Linked DNA regions of Homo sapiens. The protein of the gene in region 4 purifies or fractionates together with the protein of the main gene of each other region. This does not show direct contact. Each region holds a gene or a part of one and is shown on either strand. Other genes may lie near its edges. The genes, in order: CPT2, CYP24A1, FASTKD1, AMACR, COQ8B, NDUFAF1 and NDUFA10.

Region 1 (3,500 bases), on a different chromosome or scaffold from region 4:
ATAGGGATTTGTAATTTTGGGTAACTCAGTATCTAGTTTTATGCTATTATGATCATAGAAACACTATTGTCAGCTGACTCATGTAGCATATTGGGATTGTTTTTCCTTTCCAGTACAAACTTTTTGTTTTCTCTGAAGTTAATAATTGTTCCATCTTTTCTCTTGTTTAGTTTTCTATGTGCTTACTAATTTACCCCCAGACTCTTCCCAAGCTGTCTGAATCTCCTCTCAATACATGAAAGCAGATTGGACATTCTATCCCTTTTGGTCTTCTTGACGAAACTTCTTCCAGAACTTGCGACATGCTGTAGTCTGGATTTGTGAACCTCTTGGCCTACTGTGAAGCTGCTCTCCTGTGCTCTTTCACCATCAGCTGGGGCATCTGTCATCTCTCTCTCATGTTGGGACTCGTGTTTCTTGTCTTTCATATTTTCTTATTTCTTGGCTTTTTCTTTTTCTTTTTTTTTTTTTTTAAATCAGAGCACATATTCCCTGTACTATCTGGAAACAGAATATGGGAAGCAAAAATTTTAAAATGGCCCTTATACTTCATTGATAATTTGTTTGGCTGGGTTTGAAATTATTTTCCCACAGAATTTTGGAGGCTTTGCTCCATTGTCTTTTAGCATCCAGTGTTGCTGTTGGTAAATCTAATGTTATTCTGAGACTTAATCTTTTGACTACTTCTTCTCTCTGCCTTTGGAAGCTTTTTAGAATTTTCTCTTTGTCCCCAGTGTTTTGAAATTTCAGGTAATGTGTTTTAGTATGTGTTGGGCCACTCTGTGAGTCCTTTGAATCTGGAATCTCATCCTTCAGGTCTGGGATATTTCCTTGTTTTATTTCTTTGGCTTTCTTCCTCTCCATTTTTTTTCTCTGTTTTTTCTTTGTGGAACTCTATTATTATTCAGGTGTAGAATTTCTGGGTCTCATCCTCTAATTTTCTTTTCTCTCACATTTTTCATCTCTTACTCTTTTTGTTACATTTTCTTGGGAGACTTACTTAATTTTAATCTCTCAACCTGTTTTTAAAACTCCTGCTTTCCTATTTTTTACTTCCACAAGCTCTTTTTTCTTCTTATGGTGTTCTTTTTAAAAATAGTTTATCTCTGATAATTTTTTTTTAAGATCTCTTCTCTCTTCATAGTCTGTTGCCTCCAAGTTGCTTTTCTTCTGTTTGCTTTGCCCTTTTCTTTCTTCAGATGCTTCATAATCCTGTGTTGTCTTCGATATGAGTGAGATATTAAAAAGCTCTTGGAAGCTATGTGGATGGGGGTGAGGCTTGTCAGTTACAGGCTTTGCTCTAATGTGATTGATATGGTTTGGCTCTATGTCCCCACCCAAATCTCATCTTGAATTGTAATCCCCACGTGTTGAAGGAGGGACCTGGAGGGAGGTGATTGGATCATGGGGGCAGTTTTCCCCATGCTGTTCTCATGATAGTTAGTGGTTTCTCACGAGCTCTGATAGTTAAAAAGTGTTCAGCAGTTCCCCCACTTGTTCGCTTTCTCTCCTGCTGCCACATAAGATGTGCCTTGCTTCCCCTTCACCTTGCGCTGTGATTGTAAGTTTCCTGAGGCCTCCCCAGCCACAAGGAACTGTCAGTCAATTAGACCTCTTTTCTTTATAAATTACCCAGTCTCAGGTGGTTCTTTATAGCAGTGTGAAAATGGACTAATATAGAAAACTGGTACCAGGAGGGGGGCATTGCTACAAAGATACCTGAAAATGTGGAAACAACTTTGGAACTGGTTAATAGGCAGAGGTTGGAACAGTTTGGAGGGGTCAGAAGAAGACAGGAAGATGTCAGACAGTTTGGAACTTCTTAGAGAGTTGAATGGTTTTGACCAAAATGCTGATAGAGATATGGACAATGAAGTCCAGGCTGAGGTGGTCTCAGATGGAGATGAGGAACTTATTGGGAACTGGAGCAAAGGTCACTCTACTGTGCTTTAGCAGAGAGACTGGTGGCATTTTGTCCCTGTCCTAGAGATCTGCAGAACTTTGAACTTGAGAGGGGTGATTTAGGGTGTCTGACAGAAGAAACTTCTAAGCAACAAAGCATTCAAGATGGCTTTTTCTGAAAGCATATGGTCATATGCATTCACAGAGAGATGATGTGAAAGTGGGACTTATGTTTAAAAGGGAAGCAGAGCATAAAAGTTTGGACAATTTGCAGCCTGACCATGCAGTAGAAAAGAAAAACCCATTTTCTGGGGAGAAATTCAAGCCACAAGCTGCAGAAATTTGCATAAGTAATGAGAAGCCAAATGTTAATAGCCAAGACAATGGGGAGAATGTCTTGAGGGCATTTCAGAGATCTTTACAGTAGCCCCTCCCAGCATAGGCCCAGAGGCCTAAGAGGGAAAAATGGTTTCCTGGGCCCTGCTGTTCTGTGCAGCCTCGGGACATGGTGCCCTGTGTCCCAGGCACTCCAGCTCCAGCCATGGCTAAAAGGGGCCAAGGCACAGCTCTGGCCATTGCTTCAGAGGGTGCAAGCCCCAAGCATTGGAGGCTTCCCCATGGTGTTGGGCATGCAGGTGTGCAGAAAACAAGAGTTGAGGTTTGAAAACCTCGTCCGGCCGGGTGCGGTGGCTCACGCCTGTAATCCCAGCACTTTGGGAGGCCAAGGCGGGTGGATCACAAGGTCAGGAGATCGAGACCATCCTGGCTAACATGGTGAAACCCTGTCTGTATTAAAAATACAAAAAAAATTAGCCGGGTGTGGTGGCGTGCACCTGTGTCCCAGCTGCTGGGGAGGCTGAGGCAGGAGAATAGCGTGAACCCAGGAGGCAGAGCTTGCAGTGAGCCAAGATAGCACCACTGCACTCCAGTCTGGGTGACAGAGCAAGACTCCATTTCAAAAAAAAAAAAAAAAAAAAAGAGACAACCTCCTCCTACATTTCAGAGGCTATATGGAAACACCTGGATGTCCAGGCAGAAGTCTGCTGCAGGGGTGAAGCCCTCATGGAGATCCTCTACTAGGGCAATGCAGATGGGAAATATGGGGTTAGAGCCCCCACACAGAGTTCCCAATGGGGAGCCTAGTGGAACTGTGAGAAGAGGGCCACTGCCCTTCAGACCCCAGAATGGTAGATCCACCGACAGTTTGCACCATGTGCCTGGAAAAGCCACAGGCATTCAATGCCAGCCTGTAAAAGCAACCATGGGGCTGTACTCTGCAGAGCCACAGGGGCAGGGCTACCAAAGGCCTTGGGAGCCCACTTCTTACATCAGCATGCCCTGGATGTGAGACATGGAGTCAAAGATTATTTTGGAGCTTTAAGATTTAATGGCTGCCCTGCTGGATTTCAGGCTTGCGTGGGGCCTGTAGCCCCTCTGTTTTGGCCAATTTCTCCCTTTTGGAATGGGAGCATTTACCCAATGCTTGTAACACCAGTGTATCTTGAAAATAACTAATTGGTTTTTGATTTTACAGACTCATAGGCAGAAGGAACTTGCCTTTACTCAGATGAGACTTTGGCTTGTAATTTTGAGTTAAT
Region 2 (3,500 bases), on a different chromosome or scaffold from region 4:
GTTAGTCAGGCGTGGTATCGCACGCCTGCAATACCAGCACTTTGGGAGGCTGAGGTAAGTGGATCACCTGAGGTCAGCAGTTCGAGACCAGCCTGGGCAACATGGTGAAACCCCATCTGTACTAAAAAACACAAAAATCAGCCAGGCATGGTGGTGTGCACCTGTAGTCCCAGCTGCTCAGGATGCTGAGGCAGGAGAATCGCTTGAACCCAGGAGGTGGAGGTTGCAGTGAGCCGAGATCACGCCGCTGCACTCCAGCCTGGGGCAGAGTGAGAGTCTGTCTCAAATAAGTAATTAAAAAAAGTTACTTATATTTATCTATTTATGGCAATATTTCTGACCTTGAATTTATGGAAGTGTTATAGGTTTTCCTTCTATCCCTCCCATCAGCAGCCACAGTGATCCTCCCAGTAAATCTGCCCATATATCACACTGCTGCTGAATACATTCCCGCAGCTCCCGGTTACTTACAGGCTAAAATTCAAACTCCCGCTCATACAGCCCTCCATGAGCTGGCTGCTGGCCCTCTGCCAGCCTCTGTTACAGGATATGCTTGTCATTCCGCACTTCTTCTGCAGGGACACTCTCCTTCCTCCCTTTTCACCTGGTGAACTCCTACTCAACCATCAGGACTTAGCTGAGGGGCACCATCTCTGTGAAGCGACCCCTGGCCATGTCCGGCTTAGGTGGCCCTCTCAGATTCTCCCACAGCCCTGAATGTCCTCAGCCAGGCGCTGTCCCACCTGATCACAGCTGCCTGCTCTCCTCTTGCACCCCCATGGGCAGTGAGCTCTGCCCTTTATTTCCAGAGTAATCTTTGAAGAAAGCGGTCATGTCCTCCCTCCCTTACTTGCCCCATCTGAGTCAGATGAGAGGTAAAGTCTTGCCAGGACCTATGAGCTGTGCCCTGTTGGACACCTGCCTTCTTTTTGACCTCATCTCCTTTCACAGGCTCCCCTTCCTCCCAGCTTGTTCATCGTGATCCACTCACACCAGCAGCTTGAAGTTCCTCAAACTCGGCGCTCATGCTTCCACCTCCTGGCATTTGCACTTTCTTCTCTGCTGCCTGGAACAATCCTCCACAGGTACCCTCATGATTTGCTCCTTCCCTTCCTTTAGGACTTACCTCAAATGTCTTCTTACTAAAAAAGACTTGCCCCTCTTTCATTCTTTCATGTTATTTCTTTCTCTCTCTCTCTTTTCTTCTTTATTTCTTTTCTTTTTTCTTTCCTTTCTCTTTTTCTTTTCCTTCCCTCCTTCCTTCCTTCCTTCTCTCCCTCCTTCCTTCCTTCCCTCCCTCCCTTCTGCCTTCCCTCCCTCCCTCCCTCCCTCCTTCCTTCCTTCCCTCCCTCCCTCCCTTCTTCCTTCCTTCCTTCCTTCCTTCCTTCCTTCCTTCCTTCCTTCCTTTCTCTGTCTCTCTCTCTTTCTTGAGACGGGGTCTCACACTGTCACCCAGACTGCAATGCAGTGGTACAATCACGGCTCACTTTAGCTTCAGCGTCCCGGGGTCAAGCAATCCTCCCACCTCAGCCTCCCAAGTAGATGGGACTACAGGCATGTGCCACCAACCCTGACTAATTTTTGTATTTTTTGTAGAGACAAGGTTTTGCTGTGTTGCCCAAGCTGTTCTCAGATTCCTGGGCTGGCCTCAAGCGATCTGCCCACCTCAGCCTCCCAAAGTCCTGGGATTATAGGCATGTGCCACCATGCCTGCCTTTCATGTTCTTTCTTAACTCCCTTTCTCTTTTCCTTTACTCCTTGGAAGAGTATATTTTAAAATGTGTTTACTTGTTGACTGTCACCTTGTCTAGCATATAAGCTCCCCAAGGGTACAGGGGTTATGCGTTTCATTCATTGTCATATCCCTAGTACCTAGCACAGTGCCAGACACACAGCAAGTATTCAACAAATGTTTGTTGTATGACTCATTAACAATCCATAGTTCAAGGCATAACTTAAGCACCTAAAAGAAGCATTAAAAGGGCTGCTCTGGCCTTTCCCTAGGCAGCAATAATGCCTGTTTACAAAAGAGTTGTCAAAAGAGCCATGTTTTATCCGCAAAATCACCTGCAAAATCAGTGAGCAAGTCTGTGACGACAACTTACTTTCAAACGACCATTTGTTCAGTTCGCTGTACAAGTCTTCAACGTGGCCTCTTTCATCACAGAGCTCATCTATTCTGCCCATAAAATCGGCCAAGACCTTCAAAGAAAACAACCGCAAAAGACACATTTTAAAGCCGTTGAAGGAAAACAAAACTTTAAAGCTCACTGAGCTAACTTCAGGTCTTGCTACATCGCATATTCACTGGCCATAATGTTATTCATCCTGAAGTCACACTAATTATATATTCTCCCTGGGAACCCACCTTATCCCCTAATGACCTCGTCCTGGGTTATTTCCTGAGCTTTTCCTGAAGCCACCCTGAAGCTTAAGTTTCAGCTTTTGATCTAAAAATAATTCTGGCAATTTAAGAAAAGGAAAACATTTTTTTTTTCTAATCAGAATGGGGGAATAAAACCACAAAGGAATCAGCTAACTGTCCCTGTTGGCCCAGCATCTCAAGGATTGTGTTGCAGCAGCTATCCTGAGGTGTGCCCTTCCACATCTGGGCAAGCAAACGTCTCTTTATTGGTTGGTGGTTATGTTAAGCATGTTGAACTTGGAACCAGAAGATCTACCAATTCTGGACACAGCTCCTTCCCTAAGTAGTCTATGACCTTGGGATAGTCACATAAGACCTTTGGATGCCAGTTTCATAAACCAGAGTTTTCAATAACTAATGCCTCACATTTAATGAGGTCCATATGGTACCAAACACTGTACGAAGTGTATTGGTTGATCCTCTGACAACCAAGTAGTAGTAGGTACCGTCTCTACTCATTTCCCATGTAGTAGATGAGAAAGCTGAGGCTTAAAGAGGCCAAGTCACTCACTTATGCACACAGAGCTGATAAGTTGCCATCCTGGACCCTGCCGTGAGCTGGTGTGGCCATACAGCCCACATGTGTGGATTTAGTTTGCAAGTTTAATTTGCCCGCATAGCGCATTTAAAAGTTCTTTGAATTTGTTACCATTAAAAAAAACAAGAGGTTTCATATGAACATATGGATTTACCACTACTAGTTTAAAAATGTAAATAATAATTATGAGACTTGGTGACATGAGGTCTGCATTCTGACATGGCATTCGTTTGCTGGAACTGGGGCTGCTGTCCCTCCTGGGAGGGGCATGCACTATCACGTTTCCTGAAATTTTTACTGGGTCTGCCTTATTATTTTATATTAGTCATGTGAGCCCTGGAAGCTTCTGAGTTTGCAATCCTTCACCTATATGATCCCATCTGGGGACGCATCCAGTTCAAAATAAACATCCAAAGTGAACAGAAGTAAAAAGAGATTACTTTATGCTTAAAACTCCCTTTGACTCCGTGCTGGCTAAGGGATAATGTCCAAATACCTTAGTATAATACAAAAATATTGTTAAGACCTATCCAGTAT
Region 3 (3,500 bases), on a different chromosome or scaffold from region 4:
TCAAGAAGTGACTCAGGAAACGTGTTTCCTTTGAGAGATTTAAGTTCCTTCCGTAACAGATCCAAACTGTTGCTGTGTTGTAGTCTCTGACGACCATAGTGATCTAATTTTTGAAGTAGTTTCAGTTGTTTCGCAGTCATATTATCCAAATACATGTGATCATGCTGAATCCATCTTAAAACAGATGTGGCAAAACTACTCAGGTTATTTAGGTCACACTGTGGTAAAACGGCTTCAATTCGGGATATCCCCACTTCGTCCAAGTGAGGAGAAGGGAGCAGGGAAATAGCACGGACCAGAACAGACACCTCAGTTGGTATGAAACTATTTTTCAAATAACTGCAAAATGAAAAATGAAAAGAATACATCAGCAACAAACCCAAAATATATATGTATTAAAATATGAATACATATGAGTACAATTAATAGGTAAGATGATGATTCAAAAAAACCTCTTTCAAACTATGTTTCTCCTCTAATCTCAAACCACAACAATCATCAACCACAGAAGACTTCTGTGACCAAATGTGTGGGAGTTCTTCCAAGCAGCGGATACCAACTGGGTGTCCAATTCAGTTCTGACACAATCTACCTGGGGACAGTGTCAGATCCCACAGGTTGGGAACTTGGTCTCTAAGACTAACCTCTCCCACAAAAACCCCAGACTCCACTTGCAAAAGTAGGCCTCCAGAACTTCTGAGCAACCGGCTTCAAGTTGGGTTTCCCATGACCTCCTCTTTGGGTTTGATTAATTTGCTGGAGTGATTCACAGAACTCAGGGAAGCAGTTGTTTATGTTTACAGGTTTATTATAAATGATATTATAAAGAATGCAGATGAAGGGACAGTAGGGTGAGGTATGCGGGAAGGGGTGCAGAGCTTCCATGCCCTCCCTGACCATGCCACCCTCCAGGAACCTCCACGTGTTCGGCTATCCGGAAGCAGTCCAAACCCAGTCTTCTTGGGTTTTTATGAGCTTCGTGACATCAACATTTCCTCACACAGGGTGTAGGGTGGGATCTCTCAGGGGAGCGTCTTAAGACCCACGATCAGAAAGGTGGAGGGAGATTAGAGTCCTGCTTTGGGGCAGGAGAGAGATTCTCTTTCCAGAGGCCTAACATACCCAACATTGTTAACAAAAGGCTATAGCAAGAGCTATAGAAGTTATGAACTAGTAACTAGGACAAAAGCCAATATATATAACATCACAGGTGGGCATAATACAAGTTAATTTAAGAAGAGTTAGATAGGCCAGGCACGGTGGCTCATGTCTGTAATCCCAGCACTTTGGGAGGCCAAGGACAGGGGTTCGAGACCAGTCTGGCCAACATGGTGAAACGCTGTCTCTACTAAAAACACAAAAAAATTAGCTTAGCCAGGCATGGTGATGTGCACCTGTAATCCCAGCTACTCAGGAGGTTGAGGCAGGGGAATCTCTTGAACCAGGGAGGTGGAGGTTGCAGTGAGCCAAGATCGTGCCACTGCACTCCAGCCTGGGCGACAGAGGAAGACTCCATCTCAAAAAAAAAAAAAAAAAAAAAAAAAAAAAAAAGAGTTTGATAAATTCAAAGATGACAGGTCCATAAAGGATTATTCAGGAAAGCCTAAGACTTCCTGATGCCCTCCGTCTCAAAAAAAAAAAAACAAAACAAAAACAAAAAGAAAAGAAAAGAAAAAAAAATCTTTAAGTATAGAAATAGTGGAAGGAATAAAGGAATAAAACAGGAAGACCTGTTCTGAAGCACAGGCCAAAATTTTTTATTCAAAAATAAAACCACAGTCCCAGGGAAACAAAAGGTCCATGTCAGAACAATGTTTCCAGTGCTGTCGCTGAAGAAAGAACTTGGGTTCAATTTCTGATATCACCTGTCAGGCCCTGGCATGCAGTGATCACGTAATAAAATTGGTTCCTTTTTTGTTTCCGATACACAGTCCAACATTTAAAACAAATGAATAAACAAACAACAACAAAAGAAACAGGACATAGTTGACCTCATTCTCTACTTCATTCCGAAATCCCCATGGCAAGAGTCCCACCACCAGGACAATAATTGTTAAAAAAAAAAAAAAAAATTGAAAAACTGGGGCCGGGCATGGTGGCTCACACCTTTAATTCCAGCATTTTGAGAGGCCAAGGCGGGGGATAGCTTGAGCTCAGAAGTTCGAGACTAGCCTGGCCAACATAATGAAACCCCATCTCTACTGAAAATACAAAAAATTAGCCGGGCGTGGTGGCACATGCCTGTAATCCTAGCTACTGGGGAGGCTAAGGCATGAGAATCGCTTGAACCCGGGAGGCGGAGGTTGCAGTGAGCCGAGATCACGCCACTGCACTCCAGCCTGGGTGACAGAGCAAGACTCCGCCTCAAAAAAAAAAAAAAAAAAAAAAAAACTTTAGGTATAGAAGTAGTGGAAGGAATAATACAATCTAAATTAAAACAAAATTGAGGCTGGGCGCGGTAGCTCACTCCTGTAATCCCAGCACTTTGGGAGGCCAAGGCGGGCAGATCACGAGGTCAGGAGATCGAGACCATTCTGGCTAACATGGTGAAACACCGTCTCTACTAAAAATACAAAAAAGAGTTAGCCGGGCATGGTGGTGGGTGCCTGTAGTCCCAGCTACTCAGGAGGCTGAGACAGGAGAATGGCGTGAACCCGGGAGGCGGAGCTTGCAGTGAGCCGAGATGGCACCACTGCACTCCAGCCTGGGCGACAGAGCGAGACTCCATCTCAAAAAATTAAATAAATAGCTGGGCGTGGTGGCTCACGCCTGTAATCCCATCCCTTTGGGAGGCCGAGGTGGGCGGATTACCTGAGGTCGGGAGTTCGAGACCAGCCTAACCAACATGGAAAAACCCCGTCTCTACTAAAAATACAAAAAAGTTAGCCAGGTGGGGTGGCGCATGTAATGCGCTGTAATCCCAGCTACTCGGGCGGCTGAGGCAGGAGAATCGGTTGAACCTGGGAGGCGGAGGTTGCGGTGAGCCGAGATTGTGCCACTGCACTCCAGCCTGGGCAACAAGAGCGAAACTCCATCTCAAAAAAAAATTAAAAATAAAAATAAATAAATAAATACATTGAGTTACTTTTAAAATATTTTTTAAATTAATTTTTTTCTGGAGACAGGGTCTCACTCTGTTGCCCAGGCTAGAGGGCAGTGGCGTAATATAGCTCATTGCAGCCTTGACCTCCTGGGCTCAAGTACTCCTCCTGCCTCAGCCTCTCTACACACTGGGGATATAGGTACATGCCACCACGCCCAGCTAATTTTTTGTTTTTTGTTGTGGAGACAGGGTCTTGCTTTATTGCCCAGGCTGGTCTTGAACTCCTGGGCTCAAACAATCCTCCCAGCTCAGTCTCCCAAAGTCCTGGGATTACAAGCATGAGCCACTATGCCTGGCCATTTAAAATATTTAAATTAGCATACTAAAATAATCGTAATATTAATACTCAGTGTTAGCAAGGGTGTACTGATACAGGCATTCTCATTCACTATTAGTA
Region 4 (3,500 bases):
AACCTTTAGGTGGAACTTAAAATACGTAAGGGGGCAGCTTTATGCTACAGTTAATTTAACAACGCTGTGCTCATCATGTGGGCTCAGATTGAGTGTAAATACAGCAAAACGCACTCCATATTCCAGAGTTATCTTAACTACAGTTTCCAAGGAAACAGCACTACAATAAGGCAGCCTCCAGCTCTTCACAGGCAGGCCCAGGTCTGGAATTCTGCTGCTAAACACTGTGAAAACTTTCGGCCCATTAGAAGGTATCTGCCTTCCCCTAATCAGCTTCTGCAATTGCCTGTGTCACAAGGGGTCCTAGTGATGAAGTAATGACTATGATTTACTGATTCTTTTAGCCTTGTGTAATTAGCAAACACTTACTAGCCCCTAATGGAAATATGAACCCAGAAGAAAGATTACAACATTTTCACATACCCTAAAACCTTACTATCTTCTTTATTTAATTTATTTATTTTGAAACACGGTCTCACTCTGTCACCCAGGCTGAAGTGTAGTAGTGTGGTCTCGGCTCACTGCAACCTCTGCCTCCTGGGTTCAAGCAATTCTCATGCCTCAGCCTCCCAGGGAGCTGGGACTGCAGACGCGTACCACCAAGCCCAGCTACTTTTTTGTATTTTAGTAGAGATGGGGTTTCACCATGTTGGCCAGGCTGGTCTCGAACTCCTGACCTCAGGTGATCCACCCACCTCAGCCTCCCAAAGTGCTGGGATTACAGGCGTGAGCCACCATGCCCAGCCAACCTTACTATCTTCTAATCATTATATAATTCTGATTAGCTACATTCTGCTGAAAGCAGCAATCACCTTTTATTTATATTTGATGATAATCAATTGCATCTCTTCAGTAAATTATTCAAATTATTACTAGAGAAGTATCTAGGCTCAAATTCTCCTTAACACTCCCAAGACTCCATGTTTGCTCTTAGTTCATTCCTTTTGGACCCCAGGGACCATGCTCTTGGGGCAGCAGGGGAAGTTGTTGAAAGCAGTGGCTTTAGGGTCCAACTGCCTGGGGCAGTGCTTCGGACCCTTTCCCGTCATCTGCTTTAGAGGAAGGCAGTTAACCTCGCCAAGCCTTCAAGTCTTCAATGCCAATGATAGTAGCACGTCTCCCTCAGGGAACTGTGTGGATCACAGAAGCCCTGTGGAAGGTACCGGTCTTGAGTTTGGCGGGTACTGGTATAAATCCGGTGCTGCTATCTCATGCAGCGACTATGCCATGAGTACGCCAAGAGCTGGCCCACAAAAGATAAACCACACTCCCCTGCTGCTGGTACACACTTCAGAGAGGGCACACTGGAAAGTGTGAGATGTGCCCTGATGACAGTGTCCCACAGGCACACACTCAGTACAGGGCTGGTCATGATTCACCATGAACAGGAGAAGGAAGCGCAGGCTGAAGCTTTGGAGATGAGGGGGTTTCTGGTAGAAAATGGATTTTGTGAAGATCAGCCAGGACCCAATCCAGTTGACACTCTCAGTCTCTAAACTCTTGAGGTATCCACCAACATTTGACCCTCTGACCACTCCTTTCTTTGGTTTCCATGACAACACTCCATTCTGCTTCTCTCCTTAGCTGTCCTCAGCCCTTGCTTCTCTTTTCTGCCCACGCATTCCTTAAATGCCGGTGTTCTATCCCCTTTCCTAGTGGATCACATAGTCTCATATGGCTCCCAAATAACTCCGAAATCTGTTTCTAGTCCCTAACCTCAAGTATCCCACCTGGATATCTGAAAGGCACTTTAAAACTGAAAAGACCAAAACTGAGTTCCTTTTCTTCTAGTAAAAATAACCACAATGACAAACTTTTACAGAGGGCCCACTGTACGCCAGGCACTGTTCCCACACTGAACAATGGATGAACTCATTGAATTCTCATAGCAACTAACAATGCTATGAGGTGGATGTCATTATTATCTCCATTTTACAAAGGAAACTACAGCACAGAGAGGTTAAGTAACTTGCCCAAGATCACAGAGCTAGTAAATGGCAGAGCTGGGACGGAGGTAGTCAGCTGCCACTCTATGCTCTGACCACTGTGTTCAGCAGTCTTCCCTCAAGACACTAGCAGGTCATCTAAGCCAGAAACCTGGGAGCCAGCCTCAACTTCTCCCTCTTCGCTCCCTGTCAGTCCATTATCAATTCCCAGCAATTTTATACCTCAAATGTCCCTTCAATGCAAACCAACTCTACCATTAACTGCTTTAGTACTTGCCCTGATCTCTTCAGCAATAACCCAGTCATTGGTCTCTGTACCTCCAGTCTTGTCTCCTCAGATCCATTCTCCATCCCACCTCCAAATGTCTGTGAAAATGCAAACACGCAGTGGTGGTGCTGGAGTGGGCTCTCTTACCCACTAGCTGTGAGATCTTGAGCAAATGGCAATGCTTCCGTTCCCTCCTCTTTAAAACAACAAGGTATTCCAAATGCAGTTTTGAGAATAAGAAGAAATCACACAGGGAATGTGCTCAGCAGAACATGAGGCAAGCACTCAGTGGATGACAGTGAACAAACAGAAGTGTTATGATATCAGAGCATCCCCTATAAAACGCAGCAGGAAGGTTTAGACAGGGAGGTCCATTTGACCTTAGCATTCCTAAGAATTTTCTCTACCAGCTGAGGGAGACTTCTTGAACTTTTTTTGAATGACGACTGCTTGAAAATGATATACTAAGCACAAGAGATACTTGGGGAAAATTGTTGAAATATTTAGGTTGGCAAATATTTGGCAAAACCTGCAATTACTTTTGCACCAACCTAAAACAACGTAGGAATCACATGAGTCACAGAAAGTTCAGAGAACTGACTCCAAGGACAGATGATCAAAATATGACATTCTAACAGATATATAAAAGACATAAGTCTATTTTAAAAAGAAAAGGATATCCTTGGTAACCTGGCTTGAAACTTCAAATGTCATTTATCTCTTGTCTTCTTCTTCAAAAAAAGGATTTTAAGCAGCTATATCTTAAACTTAGGGACAAGTGGCAGGCATCTACCCCAATTAATACTTACCATATTTGCATCAATGACCTGACCCTTGCCAGTGCGTGTGCGGTCAAAAAGAGCCATTATAATGCCCAGTGCACACATAAGGCCACCACCAGCAAAGTCAGCCAGGAGATTCAGCGGGGCATACGGATTCTCACCACTTCTGCCAATTTTTGAGAGAACACCTACATCATTAAAAACAAATTTAATGTCTCTTTTAAATTTAATCTCTTCTTAAAATAAATATGTGAGCATCTTAGAGGAATAATCAATCTCTCCAGCAGATAATCTAAGTGAAAGCTAGTATACATCACTTTTCCAAATCTGAGCTTAGTCAGTAAACTCATAAACAGGCTTTCCCTCAAGACAGGATCCTTGTTTTGTTGTTTTCCTCTCTAAAACCTATTCCAACCAACATTTTCAAATATTGCTAAGTTTTTACTCACTTACTTTTGGAAAAGAAAATGATTATTTATTTTGTGGTTTTAAAACAGTAAATGC
Region 5 (3,500 bases), on a different chromosome or scaffold from region 4:
CTCTCCCCGCCTTGGTGTCCTTTCTGTCTCTGACACTCCCGCTCACAACGCCAGCACACCCTGCCCGTGCTCTCCTCTGGGCTCCCCCTCCTGCTTTCTCTCTCTGGGCATAGCCCCTTTGGGAGGTCAGCAGAGGAGTGGGTGGGCGCCTCACCCGCGGGCAGGGCCGCGCTCATCTTGAGTACCGCCAGCAGGTTCTGGACATCGCTCTGAATGCTCTGGGCTATGCCGGGGTACTGTAAAGGGAGAAGGGAGGGAGAGAAGGTGGGAGTCACTTCTCTGGGCTAGCAGGGTGCCCGCCCCTACCCTGCCCAGCCTCCCCTCTCACCTGGATCTTCACGGCCACCTCCGTCCCGTCCCTCAGCAGGCCCTGGTGCACCTGCCCAATTGAGGCAGCGGCAAAGGGCACCTCCTCCAAGGAGGCCACCTTGGCCTGCCAGTCCCTGCCGAGCTCCTCTTCAAGAACTCTCTGCGGGGAGTGGTCACAGCCATCATCATTGTGGCAGAGTTCATTCCCCAGGCTGAGTGCTTTACGTGTTGATAACCCCAGCACTCACCACATGCAGGGCCCTGGGCTAAGCTCTTGGCTGCCACCCCCTTTGCAGATGAGGAAACTGAGGCTCAGAGAGAGCTCCCTTGTGCAAGTGACTAGCCAGGCACTGGCAGACTGTGAGGCTCAGCCTAGCCTGTGTCCCCTGAACCTGGACTCCCTGGGCTGTTGTGGGGATTGCTATTATTTATAGTTAAGACTCATAACAATCCTTTTTTTTTTTTTTTTTTTGAGACAGGGTCTTGTTCTGTAGCCCAGGCTGGAGTGTAGTGGCACTCTCACGGCTCACTGCAGCATCAACCTCCCGAGCTCAAGCCATCCTCCTGCCTCCTGAATAGCTGGGACTACAGATATGTGCCACTGTGCCCAGCTAATTATTACTGTTATTATGTTTAGTAGAGACAAGGTCTCACTATGTTGCCCAGGGTGGTCTGGAAGTCCTGAGCTCAAATGATCCTCCCACCGCAGCCTCCCAAAGTGCTGGGATTACAGGCATGAGCCATTACACGTGGCCAACCATCCTTTATTATGCTCTTATATGTTATTATTAACTCACAGTTACTGTGATCAAGAAGAGCTAAAATTTACAATGGGCTTCCTGTGGGCCAGGTCCTATTCAGAGTGGCCCAGAGAGAGGCAGTACCTGCCTGGGGCCGCATGGCGAATAAGCAGAACAGGGATGGGAGAGCAGGTGGGTGGCGGAATCCTGGATTCCATGCCTTACCCAGTTATTAGAACAGCTCATGTCCTGGGCACTTACTTGGTGCCAGGCGCCGTGCCAACCTATTACAGACACGATCTCCTTTAATTAAAAAAACAGTAATAATCACAGCTAACACCTGCATGTTGCTCACAGTGAATCAGGGGCCGTTCTCAGTGCTCAGTGTAAACTGATTTATGTGACCCTATGATGTGGGTGTGGCTGTCACTATCGCCATTTCCCAGGGAAGGGAACTGAAGCACAGAGAGGTCAGGCTGCTGTTCCCTGTTTTAATCACCACAGCAATGCTAGGAGGTGTGTACTCTGGTGATTCCCATTTTACAGATGGGGAAAGTGAGGCTCAGAGGCAGGGAGTGGGGCAGTGAAGCCAGGAAGGTCAGGCAGGTCAGAGGAGATGGAGCCTGCCTCCCTCACCGCCCTCCCCCACTGGGCACTCACCAGCATCTGCCAGCGGGGCATGAAGTCGGCGCTCTGGCGGACCCGCTCAAAGATGTGCTGCAGCTGAGGGCTGATGAAGCTGTTGTCTTGGGAGACAGTGGAACCAGGGGGGAAGTAAGCGAAGAGGTGAGGAGGGACCCCGTGTGAGTATCTGAAGTTGGGGCCTGTTGGTGGGTAGGGCTGGGGTAGAAGGGAGGTCAGGGGTCAGGAGTCGAGGGTCATGCTGTACCCTGGATGCTGAGCATCTGGCCAACCTTGAGGGCGGCCCCTCGAACTGTACATAAGGTCTGCACAATCCGCTCGGCATTGGCCTCCGACAGGAAGGGGCTGGAGTCCAGCCCAGAACCACCCTCTGGGGAGAGAACAACCATTAGAATTATAACCACAAATATCATCACTGCGGCCAGGCCCGGCGGCCCACGCCTGTAATCCCAGCACTTTGGGAGACCCAGGCGGGATGAACACAGGAGTCTGAGACCAGTCTGGGCAACAGTGACATCCTTTCTCTATTAAAAAAAATATATATCATCTGCACACCAACAGGAATGGCTAAAACGAAATACGGAGGCCAGGCTTGTTGGCTCGCGCCTATAATCCCAACACTGGGAGGTCAATGCAGGAGGATGGCTTGAGTCAAGGAGTTCCAGACCAGCCTGGATAACAAAGCAAGACCCTGTCTCTAATTAGCTGGGTGTATGGTGGCATGTGCCTGTAGTCCCAGCTACTCAGGAGGCTGAGGCAGGAGGATTGCTTGAGCCCTGGAGGTTGAGGCTGCAATGAACTGTGATCGCACCATTGCACTCCAGCCTGGGCAACCAAGCAATACCCTGTCTCGGGAAAAAAAAAAAAAAAAGAAAAGAAAGAAAGAAAAATAAACATAAGTTAAAACAAATTGCAGGAGAGTCAAAGAGTAACTACTACAGTATTGAATAGATGAGCTATCACTACACACAACAGCCCAGGTGGGTCTCAAAAATGTAATGCTGAGTGAAAGCAGCCGGGTGCATGAAATCATCACCCAGTTACACTGATATAAAGAGCAAAACAAGGCCAAACAAATCCAGGGTCCAGGAGCCAAGACAGAGGTCACCCTTGGTGAGGGGAGTGACCAGGTGGGGACATGAGAAGGGCAACGATTCTCGAAATGTGGGCCAGGGACCCCTGAGGGTCCCTGAGACCATTCAGAGGGGTCTGAGAGATCAAACTATTTTTATCGTAACATTAAGATGTTATTTTCCCCTTTCTGCTCTCATGCGTCTAAGAACATTCACTGGAGTTCTCCAGAGGCTCCAGGACATGTGAGGACACCATCAGACTGACAGCTGATGGAATGTGTACGTGTGTACTCTTGTGTTTTAAAAATATCTCTGTATTTTTGTTGTGTTTTTGAGACAGTGTCTCACTCTATCACCCAGGCTGGAGTGCAGCGGCACAATCATGGCTCACTGCAACCTCCTGGGCCCAAGTGATCCTCCTGCCTTAACCTCCTGAGTAGCTGGGACTACAGGTATGCACCACCATGCTTGGCTAATATTTTTACTTTCTGTAAAAATGGGGCCTCGCTATGTCACTCAGACTGGTCTCAAATTCCTGACCTCAAGGGATCCTCCCGCCCCAGCTTCCCAAAGTGTTGGGATTACAGGCGTAAGCCACCGCACCTGGCCTAAAAATTTCTCAGTTTTAATTTCTAATATGGTAGACATTGATAACTATAATCCACATAAATAAGCTCTTTGGAGGCTCATTCTAACAGTTTTATTGAGAAATAATTCACATACTGTTATAATTCAC
Region 6 (2,822 bases), on a different chromosome or scaffold from region 4:
TAGCCTCCTGAATAGCCAGGACTACAAGGATGCACCACCATGGCTGGATAAGTTTTTTGTTTTTTTACTAGAGTCTTGGTTTCACCGTGTTTCCCAGGCTGGTCTTGAACTCCTGGGCTCAGTTGATCCTATTGTGTTGGCCTCCCAAAGTGCTGGGATTACAGGCATGCACAACCAGGCCCAGCCATTTTCTTCCTTTGTTAAACTCAAAATATAAATAAAATTAGCATACTCTGTACCTGTTTTTTGTGTTTTTAAAATTTAGGAATATATCCTGGAGAGCTTCTGTATAATTATTTAGGCAGGGTGTGGTGGTTCATACCTGTAGGCCAAGGTTGGCAGATTACTTGAGCTCAGGAGTTTAAGACCAGCCTGGCTAACATGGTGAAACACCGTCTCTACCAAAAAAAAAAAAAAAAAAAAAATTAGCCGGGTGTGGTGGTGTGCGCCTATAGTCCCAGCTACTCAGGAAGCTGAGGTGGGAGAATCGCTTGAACCTGGGAGGTGGAAGTTGCAGTGAGCCAAGATGGCACCACTGCACTCCAGCCTGGGTAACAGAGTGAGACCCTATCTCAAAACAAAACACAAACAATTAAAGCCAGATATAGTTTTAAAAGATCGTGCTTAATAATAAGTAAATTACATAGAGAAGAAATATGAAAATAAAGTTGATGAATAAAAAGGCACACTTGAAAGTTCAAGAGTAGAAGGAATAGGACATTTCTTTTAGTTCAGTTTCTAATGTAGGAAGGAAGGGAAACGTTAAAATTCTTTTTTCTTTTTTTTCTGAGATAGAATCTAGCTCTATCGCCCAGGCTGAAGTGCAGTGGTGTGATCTTGGCTTACTGCAACCTCTACCTCCCGGGTTCAGGCAACAAAGTGAGACCCCATTCTCCACAGAAAGAAAAAAAAAAAAAAGCTGTGTTTAGGATACTAGTCTTTTTTCCATAAATGTTACAAATATTTTTTTCATAGTTAACCCTTTATCGTTTGGCCTGAGTTATATCTTTGATCCAAATGGCTAGCCATTTGTCATAATACATATATGACATAATTTTAGAATAAATGTAAACTCATTTTATCGTTACAATTACATGCAGATGCCTCAATTGCTTACATTTCAGTTATGAAGTAAATGGTTTCTTCTTTCAGATTCCTTTTTCCAAATTTTTCTTCTCTAATCGAGGAAGAATCCGGGATGTTCAGCATGAGCTTCCGCTTGATAAGGTAACATATTCCTGTATTTTTCACTCAGAACTGTATCATTTTTAATGAATCGGAACTCTGGGGAGACTGAGTTCATTTGAGAAGGCTGGCAGATGAATATTTCTTCTCAGGGCCACTGCTCTTATACCCAGCCAGAGGCTGACTTAGACCTCTCCTATGAACCATACCCCCATCCTGAAGGAATTTTAGAAGGATCATTTTTTAGCATGCCTACATTTTACTTTAGCTATTTTCCCCCCTCCCTTCTCTCCTAATTTAGCTTTAAAATAAGAGTTTATGAACGCTTCAAGGAACTCCATTAGGCATTCATGTCGTCCTTACTAGTCTTTTTGTTTTTTGACATGGAGTCTTGCTTTGTCACTCAGGCTGGAGTGCAGTGGCATGATCTCGGCTCACTGCAACCTCTACCTCCCGGGTTCAAGCATTTCTCCTGCCTCAGTCTCCTGAGTAGCTGGAATTACAGGTGCCTGCCACCACACTTGGCTAATCTTTGTATTCTTAGTAGAGACGAGGTTTTACCATATTGGGCAGGCTGGTTTTTAACTGGACCTTGTGATCTGCCCACCTTGGCCTCCCAGTGTTGGGATTACAGGCCTGAGCCACGACGCCCGGCCGTCCTTCCTAGTCTTAAGTGGCACTACCTAATGAGGAGAGGGGAGGAAGTTGAATGAGGAAAGAAAAGCAGTCTTGTATTTCCTCTTACAGTATGCTATGGGAGAATTAGTAGTATTTGCTAAGGGCTGATAGCATTAAAACCCAGTTATAATCATCACCTGATGGGATTTTAAACTCCTGGAATAATCTCAGTACGTCACTGTATGAGATTTTAATCAATTTCTGTATTTTAAATTTAGATCTCTTCTATAGGATTCACCTTGGCTGATAAAGTGGATGGTCCATTCTTCCTGGAGATAGATTTTATTGGCGTGTTTACTGATCCAGCTCATACAGAAGAATTTGCCTATGAAAATTCTCCAGAGCTTAACCCAAGGCTTTTTAAATAAAGATCATATGGTAGTTTTGTTTTACTAATCTAAGGGTACTAGCATCTACAATGATATAGACAAAATAAAATATTTCTTTAATGGCATCCAACCAATGGCTAGTATGTATTCTCTCTCTTTTTTTTTTTTTTTTTTGAGATGGAGTTCTGCTCTGTCGCCCAGGCTGGCATGCTGGCGTGCAGTAGCGTGATCTCGGCTCACCGTAACCTTCGCCTTCTGGGTTCAAGCTATTCTCCTGCCTCAGCTTCCCGAGTAGCTGGGATTATAGGCATGCACCATCATGCCCAGCTAATTTTGTATTTTTAGTAGAGACAGGGTTTCTCCATGTTGGTCAGGCTGGTCTCGAACTCCTGACCTCAGGTGATCCGCCCGCCTTGGCCTCCCAAAGTGCTGGGATTACAGATGTGAGCCACCGCGCCTGGCTGGCTAGTATGTATTCTCTAAGACAAGTTATAATGCTGTTGCTGGCCAGGCACTGTGGCTCACGCCTGTAATCCCAGCACTTTGGGAGGCTGAGACGGGCGGATCACTTAAGGTCTGGAGTTCGAGACCAGCCTGACCAGCATGGTGAAACCTCGTCTCTACTAAAAA
Region 7 (3,500 bases), on a different chromosome or scaffold from region 4:
AGCTGCCATATACTTTAAAATGAGAGGTCGACGCGCACTCTGTGAGAACATACTAATTACCTCCAGGAGGGCACCAAGCCATTCATGAAGGATCTACTCCCATGACCTAAACACCACCCACCAGACCCCACCTCCAACAGGGGATCAGATTTCTACATGAGATCTGGAGGGACAGACATCCTAACTACATCAATGCCCATCTAAAGGCGGGGGGGAGGGTGGCACAGCCAGCCTCCAGCTTTCTGGCCCAGGATACAGTGTGGATACAGACGGTTTTGTTTGGGTGCCAGGAGAATTCTGGGACACACACAAAAAAAGAAAAACCCAGCTCCTTCAGGAGTTTGAAATCTGAAGAGAGACTGAGATGAAAGCCCAGGTCATTCAGCCAGTGATGCCAAGACAGCCCAGGGGGTTTGGTATTGTGGGATCCCAGGAGGGGGCGCAGGCAGCTAGTCTGGCAGAGTCCAGGGAGGCGTCAGGAGAGTGAGGGACCCTCCAGGGCCAGGGGGATCCCCCAACACTGCTGCTCGAACTACAGGTGTCTACAAGTGGCAGGAAGACCGCAAGAGAGGGACGTGACTTTCTGGCTTCACAGTCTGACAAGACCTTTGGCCTAAGTTGTGACCTGTGTCAGACGGGCTGTAGGTGCTATTTCTAGACCGGGGAGCAGTGACGGGCACCTGGGGCTGGCCTCAAAGGGCCTGACGGGGTCAGGAAGGCCTGGGTGAGAGAGAGAAAGAGCTGGTCAGCCCCAGGGAAGGTAAGTGTCCGGTCTGCTTATAGAATATGTGCAGGGTGTGGGGGCTACATGGCGGGTTGCCCCATAGAGATGACCCGTGGGCAGTTGGAAACCTGCGTCTGTGGCTTAGAAGACAGGGCTGTGCAGCCACCTCCCAGTAACTGAGGGAGGCAGCGCCATGTGAGCCGACCATCCAGGGTGCTGGACAAGAGAAGAGGCCAAAGAGCAGCACTGCATGGCTGAGGCCTGAGGCTGCAGAGGGACTGAGGAGTGAGGCACACAGGCCACCGGAGGAGCTGGGTGTGACCACGCGTGACATACGGGGCCTCGCGTCACGGTCACCAGATGGCCACTAGCTCTGCACGAAGACAGGAGGAGCGGGGTGGGAAAAGACCACACTAGCGGGGAAGCAGTCAGCAGCTGAGGAAGGGGACACAACACCTGGGCCACCTTTCACACGCCAGGTAATGGCACGTATGTCTATGCCTGCACGCCCATGCATGTGCAGGGGGCTGGTAGGCGGGGTCTCTGCATCAAGAAGTGGTGGAGATCTCTATCTCAAGATGCCCAGCCTCCAGAACCTGTGAACACATGAGCTCACCTGGCAAAAGGGCCTCTGCAGCAGGAGACTGGGAGATCATCTGGGTTATCTGGGTGGGCCCCAGGCCATCACTAGGGTCCTCAGAAATCAGAGAAGGAGATGTGACAATGGAAGCAACAGCCACAGTAATGTGGGGCCAGGTGCTGAGGAATGTGGGCGGCCTCTAGAAGCTGGAAAGGGAAAGGACACCAATCTCCCCTTGAGCCCCCGGAAGGAGCCAGCCCCGCCTGCACCGTGATTTTAGAACCTCTGCCTCCAGAACTTTAGGAGGATGCATGTGTATTGTTTTAAGCTGCTAGAGAGTGGTAGCTGGCAGCAGCAGCAGCAGACGACTCCTGCCGGGTGTCTGCTTTTTATGATGGGAGATACCGGGTCACATCTGTACACCAGGAAGAAAAAAACTGTGCAGGGGAACAGGTCGAGGATGCAGGAGAGTGTGGGTCAACCCCAAGAACACAAACCCGGAGGGAGGGGCAGGCCAGAGAGCTGTGAAAGCAGCAAGGCCCTCCAGGAACACTGCCGGCGAGGACACCTCCAGCAGAACCACACTCAAACACGACTGCCGCAGCCAGGAAACGGTAACGCTGTAGTTGGTTCCACATCTGAGAGGTGGTCCTGCCAGAAATTCATTTCTTTTTCCCTAAAGGACCAACTGCAGAATTAAGCCCAAAGAACAGAAAGTTGACACCTGAACAAAAGATCACCGAAAGGTTTTCCCGTTTAACCAACCTGCTGCAAACCCACACGACGGCCAGCAGGCGCCTCTCTTAAGACGCCCTGGGTCAGCTTCCCCAGGGTTTTTCAATTAAAGTTGTCATTTAATGTTTTACCCAAACACAGGACCAGCCACGCAGGTCTGTTCACAGCAGTACTGACAGAGGAAGGGCTGGGTTTGGGACAGTCTGGCTCCATTTTCATCTTTGCAAATAGAATTTTAAATCAGAGCAGATAATAGAAACTAGCAGAATACCAAACCTGCTAAGTCCAGCCAGTGGCCATTAATTGTCTCGGAAAGTTTGTGTCTGGACTTCTCAGGCAGCAGTTAACTGGCCTTTGATACCCAGGAGGGTTCTCAGATCCTGGGGTCTCTTTTCAGTGTTTTAGGCCAACAGAGAACCATGCGGGGGGGGAGGGGTTCATTTGCAGCATCTCACACCAGGAAAATGCAAAATCATCCACTTTGTTTACATGTCTACTTCACGTCTGTATCTGCTAATTTAAAATAAGCCTTCCACCCCCAAAACCCAGTGCTCATTCATCACATGAGAAAACGCGCATGATAACGCCTCAGGGAGGAAAGCAGCAAAGCCCGTTCCCTCGCAGGGCAGCCTCACTCCGGGAGCCGCAACGGGCCTCGTCAGACCTTCCTCCCGAGCCACGCTTTCCCGGATCTGCTCGTTCACGGTGCCCGGGTGCGTGACACCCATGTGTGTGGCTGTGCGTCCAAAGGTTGAGATGCAAAGGGCATGCGGTGAACTATCTCAGGTGAACTATCAAGGCCGTACACCCACTTTAAAATGAAAAGAAAATCATTTTCCTCCTGTCAGAAGTCAGGGCTTCTGCCGAGTATACACCGGGTGAGCAAACCAAGAATCCTTAAGGAGCAAAAGAAGAAAGAGCGCCTAACAGAAAAAGGAACAAACCCCTCCAATGCTCATCCTCTGCAATCCCCTCTACTGTACAATGCGAACGGAGTTTCCCTCGCTGGATCTCTAAATTCAAGGCATTTTGGACTCATTACATTCACAGGGCTCTGATAAGTTTAACACTTTCAGGAGGCTCTTTCCCTGTATTCCATTTTCCATTAGAAATCAAAAAGGAAGTTTACTGAAGGGAAAAAAAACCTCAATAAATTACAAAGCCAAACATTCCAAGTCCTCTTCCAGAGCCAAGCAGCTAAGCTGCCCTCCACCCATGACCCTGGCGTGTGTCAGTCCCTGGTGGCCCACCGGGAGTGTTCCAGGGCGAGGCCTGGAGCTGGGAAGGGATTTTAGACAGTGCACTGGGAGGCACCCTGCCCAGTCACCGACAACCTGGGCTGACTCAGTGTACAAACCAAGTTCCTTTCCCTAAGGGCTGCTGGTCACAGGGGGCTGGGCTGGAAATGACAACTCCCCCTGGCCCCCGATGGAGCCCAGACATGGAGGATGAGCAGGGTGG

Evidence for each region.
Region 1: the proteins of AMACR (region 4) and CPT2 purify together in Homo sapiens (affinity purification with mass spectrometry; one large-scale study listed by BioGRID and IntAct). This does not show direct contact.
Region 2: the proteins of AMACR (region 4) and CYP24A1 purify together in Homo sapiens (affinity purification with mass spectrometry; one large-scale study listed by BioGRID and IntAct). This does not show direct contact.
Region 3: the proteins of AMACR (region 4) and FASTKD1 purify together in Homo sapiens (affinity purification with mass spectrometry; one large-scale study listed by BioGRID and IntAct). This does not show direct contact.
Region 5: the proteins of AMACR (region 4) and COQ8B purify together in Homo sapiens (affinity purification with mass spectrometry; one large-scale study listed by BioGRID and IntAct). This does not show direct contact.
Region 6: the proteins of AMACR (region 4) and NDUFAF1 purify together in Homo sapiens (affinity purification with mass spectrometry; one large-scale study listed by BioGRID and IntAct). This does not show direct contact.
Region 7: the proteins of AMACR (region 4) and NDUFA10 purify together in Homo sapiens (affinity purification with mass spectrometry; one large-scale study listed by BioGRID and IntAct). This does not show direct contact.

The regions. Positions count from the first base shown.
Region 1 is NC_000001.11:53,203,324-53,206,823, forward strand, and holds part of CPT2 (carnitine O-palmitoyltransferase 2, mitochondrial isoform 1 precursor), read left to right. Parts: intron 1-3,500. UniProt on the Homo sapiens protein: Involved in the intramitochondrial synthesis of acylcarnitines from accumulated acyl-CoA metabolites.
Region 2 is NC_000020.11:54,167,487-54,170,986, forward strand, and holds part of CYP24A1 (1,25-dihydroxyvitamin D(3) 24-hydroxylase, mitochondrial isoform 1 precursor), read right to left. Parts: intron 2,203-3,500; coding exon 2,106-2,202; intron 1-2,105.
Region 3 is NC_000002.12:169,546,366-169,549,865, forward strand, and holds part of FASTKD1 (FAST kinase domain-containing protein 1, mitochondrial), read right to left. Parts: intron 340-3,500; coding exon 1-339. UniProt on the Homo sapiens protein: Involved in the down-regulation of mitochondrial MT-ND3 mRNA levels which leads to decreased respiratory complex I abundance and activity.
Region 4 is NC_000005.10:34,001,551-34,005,050, forward strand, and holds part of AMACR (alpha-methylacyl-CoA racemase), read right to left. Parts: intron 3,185-3,500; coding exon 3,024-3,184; intron 1-3,023. UniProt on the Homo sapiens protein: Catalyzes the interconversion of (R)- and (S)-stereoisomers of alpha-methyl-branched-chain fatty acyl-CoA esters.
Region 5 is NC_000019.10:40,703,387-40,706,886, forward strand, and holds part of COQ8B (atypical kinase COQ8B, mitochondrial), read right to left. Parts: intron 2,062-3,500; coding exon 1,939-2,061; intron 1,796-1,938; coding exon 1,710-1,795; intron 470-1,709; coding exon 329-469; intron 237-328; coding exon 155-236; intron 1-154.
Region 6 is NC_000015.10:41,386,853-41,389,674, reverse strand, and holds the end of NDUFAF1 (complex I intermediate-associated protein 30, mitochondrial precursor), read left to right. Parts: intron 1-1,152; coding exon 1,153-1,227; intron 1,228-2,081; coding exon 2,082-2,231; 3' UTR 2,232-2,322; downstream 2,323-2,822. UniProt on the Homo sapiens protein: As part of the MCIA complex, involved in the assembly of the mitochondrial complex I.
Region 7 is NC_000002.12:239,962,843-239,966,342, forward strand, and holds part of NDUFA10 (NADH dehydrogenase [ubiquinone] 1 alpha subcomplex subunit 10, mitochondrial isoform 1 precursor), read right to left. Parts: intron 1-3,500. UniProt on the Homo sapiens protein: Accessory subunit of the mitochondrial membrane respiratory chain NADH dehydrogenase (Complex I), that is believed not to be involved in catalysis. Complex I functions in the transfer of electrons from NADH to the respiratory chain.